2 separate regions of the Homo sapiens genome follow, and region 2 is linked to region 1. The links come from fine-mapping of genetic effects on plasma protein levels. Region 1 holds a variant in brackets. A gene starts in the other region. All regions are shown on their forward strands.

Region 1 (2,922 bases):
CAGTGATGGTGGTAATAACAGTAGTATCAATAATTAAATACTGTGCTCAGTAAAAACATAGGCTCAGAAGCTACCCTAGAGATTAGCTAGTTCAACCATCCAGATGAAGCAAAAACACTCCAGCTTATTTTACAGTTTTTTTTGTTGTTGTTTGGCTGGGTTTTTTTGTTTTTTTTTTGTTGTTGTTGTTGTTTGTTTTTTGTTTTTTTTGACAGAGTCACTGTCGCCTAGGCTGGAGTGCAGTGGCGCCATCTCAGCTCACTGCAACCTCCACGTCCTGGGTTCAAGCAATTCTCCTGCCTCAGCCTCCTGAGTAGCTGGGATTACAGGCATGTGCCACCATGCCCAGCTAATTTTTGTATTTTTAGTAGAGATGGGGTTTCAGCATGTTGGCCAGGCTGGTCTCAAACTCCTGACCTCAAGTGATCTGCTCGCCTTGGTCTCCCAAAGTGCTGAGATTACAGGTGTGAGCCACCATGCCTGGCTATTTTATGGTATTATTAACAACAATAATTAATGTCCACAAATTTTAAGATCAATCAAAAGACAAAAAAAATTATTCATCCTTTCTGGAATGTTAATATAGCATTTAAAATCTGGCAAACACCTCCCCCATTGTAAACTAAGATAACATTGCCAGATCTCAGTGTTTTTTTCTATCATCAATAGCATGATTTTTGCAGTAATACATTCATCTTAATATTTTCTGTTTAGATCTCACTGATGAAAAGGCCTCCAGGTTTTTCACCTTTCCGATCATCACGAATAGGGGAAATAAAAGAAGAAACAACTGTAAGTCCACCCCACACTTCCATGGCACCTGCACAAGATGAAGAGCGGGATTCAGGAAAAGAACAAGGGCATACTCGTAGACATGACTGGGGCCATGAAAAACAAAGAAAACATAATCTTGGCCATGGCCATAAACATGAACGTGACCAAGGGCATGGGCACCAAAGAGGACATGGCCTTGGCCATGGACACGAACAACAGCATGGTCTTGGTCATGGACATAAGTTCAAACTTGATGATGATCTTGAACACCAAGGGGGCCATGTCCTTGACCATGGACATAAGCATAAGCATGGTCATGGCCACGGAAAACATAAAAATAAAGGCAAAAAGAATGGAAAGCACAATGGTTGGAAAACAGAGCATTTGGCAAGCTCTTCTGAAGACAGTACTACACCTTCTGCACAGACACAAGAGAAGACAGAAGGGCCAACACCCATCCCTTCCCTAGCCAAGCCAGGTGTAACAGTTACCTTTTCTGACTTTCAGGACTCTGATCTCATTGCAACTATGATGCCTCCTATATCACCAGCTCCCA[T/C]ACAGAGTGATGACGATTGGATCCCTGATATCCAGATAGACCCAAATGGCCTTTCATTTAACCCAATATCAGATTTTCCAGACACGACCTCCCCAAAATGTCCTGGACGCCCCTGGAAGTCAGTTAGTGAAATTAATCCAACCACACAAATGAAAGAATCTTATTATTTCGATCTCACTGATGGCCTTTCTTAATTTAAGTGGCTATGGGTATTTCTTTCATACTTTATTAAAGTATCAATATCCCTCTCTCCATTGTCCAGATGAAAATATCCTGATATAATGCACCAAAAACCATGCAGCTTCGGAACAGTCTAAAGAGAAGTGGTGAGACTCCCAGTGGAGACACCATCAGTCTCCACGGACTGCATAAAATTGTGTGCCACAATTCTAACTCTTTTCTGAATCTTCTTCCCAAGTTTTCTAAACTAGCACAGTAAACAGACAAACTAATGTGCCGTATGGCCTGCTGCAATTGGCTTCTCTGATAACAAATATGTACCTTACAACATATGTCATGAATTTGCATACAAAGATTCTTGTCATTCTTAATAAACTGTGGCACTTGGTATTTGAATGTGTGTGAAAATAAGGGAAGTCAAGAGATTAAATGCTGAACTTATTAATGGAATAGAAATAATAAGGAGGCTGAGGCTGGAGAATTGCTTGAACCCGGGAGGCGGAGGTTGCAGTGAGCCGAGATCGTGCCACTGCGCTCCAGCCTGGGCATCAGAGCAAGATTCTGTCTCAGAAAAAAAGAAAAAAAAAGAAATAATAAGAAAAACTTCCAGATTTCAAAGTAACAAGAAAGAAGACAGGTTGGCCAAAGGGAGGAAAGGGGGGACATAAATTAATTGACTTTCTATTCCCAAAATGGGCTAGTTATATCAAATAAATACTCCCACTGCCCTTTCTGAGTGAGAGTGTTTCTCATAAGTCAAAAATTTCTGTTTACTCATTAACTACTCTTTGCAACAGGCTTTCATATAGAAGTATTCTGTTTATTTTTGCTGAGCCTAGATTGAGTAATTCTTAGTTTACAGAAGCTCCGAGCTTAATGATAAGGATGAAAAGCAGAGGGAGCAATATAGAAGCAGGCTTGCTAATAAAACTTTTTAAATAATTGACAAGGGAATATTATGGAATGTGATGCAAAGTTTGTTCCGAAATTTTATGAGGAAATTACTCTCTAGTCTCACTTTATAGTCTTTTTGCTATGACTTTGAAGACCATTGATTTTTGAGAAGCAGAATAATAGGATTGCCTTTCATTGCCCTATAGTGCAAAGAAGGTATATGCTTTATAACCAATGTTGTACTTTTGCCTAGAAAAACAAGATATGGCTTTAAATAGCTACAATCATCTTTGGATGTATATGTCACTGCTGCTTCAAGTTATTGGATGCATTTGAACCTCTGAGTTTGTCTTTCATTTTAAATATTGTCTGTTCTTTTAAATAAACAACCACAGATGTCAGGAAAAAGTCTTACCTTGTCAACTGGTTGCTCCACTTTTTAAAAATGATTGAATGATAACATCATATTAACTGCGTTTTACTATACTTACAGAGTCACCTAAGGTCCTGCGAGTACA
Region 2 (2,922 bases), not on the chromosome of region 1:
TTTCATTCTTTTTTATGGTTCCTATCTATCTTTTTGTTGAACTTCTAATTTTGCTCATGTATTGTTTTCCTGATTTTGTTTACTGTCTATCTATATTGTTTTGTAGCTTATTGAGCTTTCTTAAGGCAATTATTTTTAGCTCTTGTCATGCAGTAAAGATCTCCATTTCTTTAGGGTCACCTCCTGCTGCTTTATTTCCTTCCTTTGGTGGTTTCTTGTTTCCCCGATTATTTGTGATCAGTGTGGCCTTGCACTGAAGTAGGCACCTATTTCAGTCTTTACATACTAGCTTCAGCAGAGAAAGCCATTCACTAGTCAGATTGACCAGAGATTGTTGGTGGGCTGTCTGTTGGGGTCTATGCACAGGATTTCTGCTGGAGTTCTAAGGTGGGAAGGGCTGGATTCTGGGTTCATTCACTGTGGTTGTCTGTATTCTGTGCACAAGGACTGGCTTGAAGCATGGATCCTTGGGGGCTGACTTGGCACTGAAATGAGCCTTAAGCCTGCGTCTGCAGGGGCCAGCCTAACATGGGGATCACCTGGCACCTGAGTTCATGGGGATAGGCCTGTTCCTGAGTTTATTCAGGCTGTCCTGGGAACAAGGTCCACTGGGGTGAGCCCAGCATCTGGGTCCACATGGCCCAGCATGGAGCCAAGATCTCTGGAGGCTGACCTGGTGCTGGATCTGCAGGGGATGGCCTGGATTCTAGGCCCATGGGTGCCAACTTGGAGCCTGGGGTTGCTGGGGCTAACGTGGAGGCTAGATAGAGTCTTGGGGGCCAGGCTAGAGCTGGAGCAGGCCTGAAGTCTAGGTTTTGTGTGGCCATCTTGGAGCCTGAAGCCCCAGGGGCTGACCTGGTCTGGGGTGAGCATGGGGCTGAGGCCACAGAGGCTGGTCTGGCCTGTGGCAGGCCTGAATCCTGGTGCTGGGGTTTACTGGAGTGGGCTTGGTGCTTGGGATCTGTGGTGAAGTTAGGTTCTATCTTAACTGTCCCTCCTCCATGCAAGAGGGCATCTCTCTCCATACTGTGCTGCCCAGGCTTGAAGGTGAGATGACACCGGTAATGTGAAATTGTCCTTCCTATACACTTCTATGTGTCTTTTCTTATTTCTGTGCTGCAACCAGGTGGCATAACCTCTCACCTGATTCCTTAGCTCTAGTGAAGTTATTTTCGTGCATGGATACTTGTTCGAATTGATGTTTCTGCAAGGGATGAGCGCTAGAAACTCCTGTTCTGACAAACTCCTATTCCTATTCTTGCTGACATCACTCCCTGAAATAGTTAATATACTTAACAGCTGAACACGGATAGGATGTTCATGGAATATGTTGACAGGACAAAAAGTTGAAACTGTTGGCAGAAACCCAAAGTCAATATTGAAGCCAAGCAAAATATTGCCTGCAGTGCCACATTAGAACAGCTTGAAGACCGTTCATTTTTAAGTGACAAGAGACTCACCTCCAAGAAGCAATTGTGTTTTCAGGTAGCAAATTTTTATTATTCTGATTGTTTCCAAATAAACTATAATTTTTAAGTATAATTTTTTACTTTATGAGAAAATTAATCATTTATATTCTAATTTCCTGAGTATGTAGAGAGTATAGATAATGTTCCTTTATGTAGAAATATTTAAATGTAAGATGATTTTAAATCAGAAAGAATATTTGATTGATTTAAAATTTTTAAATGGGCTTTAATATTTTCAGAGGTTTTCTTTACTTAGGGATTTTTGGACTGACATTATTGCCATTATTTATTAATTTTGTTTTTGCCCAAATCAAGAGGTTTCATAATTGTTTACTCTCTCTCTACCAATTCCCTTTCCAACATTACTAGCCACAGAGTTGGCCAATGAACAATAAACACAACAGTAGTCTGGAGGTCTCAATTTGTATCTTGGGAAGCATTATAAATTTTCCAACTCCCTAGACACAAATGTACCAAAAAAAAACCCTTGTTTTCTATACCAGTAATTGTGTGCTTTGTCTTGCAATTCAGACATTTACAAGAAAATCTAAATCACCTTAAATTAAGATTTATGTTAAATGTGGTCTAAAACCAGCAGAGTTATGTATTGTTTTCTTTTTTAGAATGATTTTATTCAAGCAAGCAACTTATTTCATTTCCTTGTTTGCTACAGTTTCCTGTGGTAAGTGAATTATCTATAAAACATGGAATTCAGGCTAAGACAGGAGTAGCCAAGCAAGTGGCACCACCCCTGGAGAAAGCTATTGAACATACAGCTTCGGGGGTGGAGATTGTCCCTGATGATTCAGGACACGTGTCTATTTAATGTTCCACAACAAGGACCACTTGTCAGGTATATTGCTGTAGACATATGTTGCAGACCAGAGGAAGGAGCTCAGAAGTAGGAATGTCTTGGGACTTGTGTTAACAAAAACTTCTGTTCGCAGATGACACTCTGCAAAGCAAAACTTGAAACAAAAAAAAATTAGTCCTCTATTTTTATTATCAACAGTAAAAAATTAAACTTTATCTGAAAATTCAAAAGAGTGCTAGGCATTTTATAGTGTCTGGGTCCAATCCAAGTATCTGTTAGGAACACCATACATAGTTTTACTCTGGACCGCTAGGGAACCATTTCAAAAATGAAAGTAACTGGTTTAAATTTAACTTAGCAAACCATGCATTTGGATAGTTCTAGGTGAATAGCTTTCAACACCAGATTTAGATCTCATTTCTCTATTAATTTCATTAATTTTTGGAGAATAAAAATGATTCTGGACATTTCATTAATCATTACAGAGGGAGTTTTCTCTGTGTCCCCACAAGGCATGATTCTGGGTCTATGGTGACTTAAGAGGGCCACACAACAATGAGTATTTAATTTTCCTCAGATGTATGGCTACAATAAACATCTATAGGTAAGGTTTACATTCATAAAGAGACCTTTTTTTTT

Which allele goes with the higher level. Alleles are on the strand shown, and positions count from the first base shown. The strength of an association depends on the size of the effect and on how common the allele is.
In carriers of allele C in region 1, the plasma level of the protein whose gene starts at base 1,405 in region 2 tends to be higher than with T alone (strong association).

What was found. PIP is the posterior inclusion probability: the model's chance that the variant is causal. Protein levels are from antibody-based Olink assays in UK Biobank. Linkage for the fine-mapping came from a reference panel and not from the study's own genotypes, which makes the PIPs less certain.
Region 2: KLKB1 starts here. The variant in region 1 is fine-mapped to the plasma level of the KLKB1 protein (UK Biobank, PIP above 0.99).

The regions. Positions count from the first base shown.
Region 1 is chr3:186,740,808-186,743,729 of GRCh38, forward strand. It overlaps KNG1 (kininogen 1), which reads left to right. Exons shown (of 10, transcript NM_001102416.3): 10 at 715-2,922. The coding sequence ends at 1,524. Among named protein-coding and RNA genes, the nearest start is that of KNG1, 25 kb to the left of the region's middle. The variant T/C (reference allele first, on the strand shown) is at 1,331.
Region 2 is chr4:186,226,103-186,229,024 of GRCh38, forward strand. KLKB1 (kallikrein B1) reads left to right here and starts at 1,405. Exons shown (of 15, transcript NM_000892.5): 1 at 1,405-1,485; 2 at 2,093-2,151. The coding sequence starts at 2,094. RefSeq lists an enhancer at 1-582.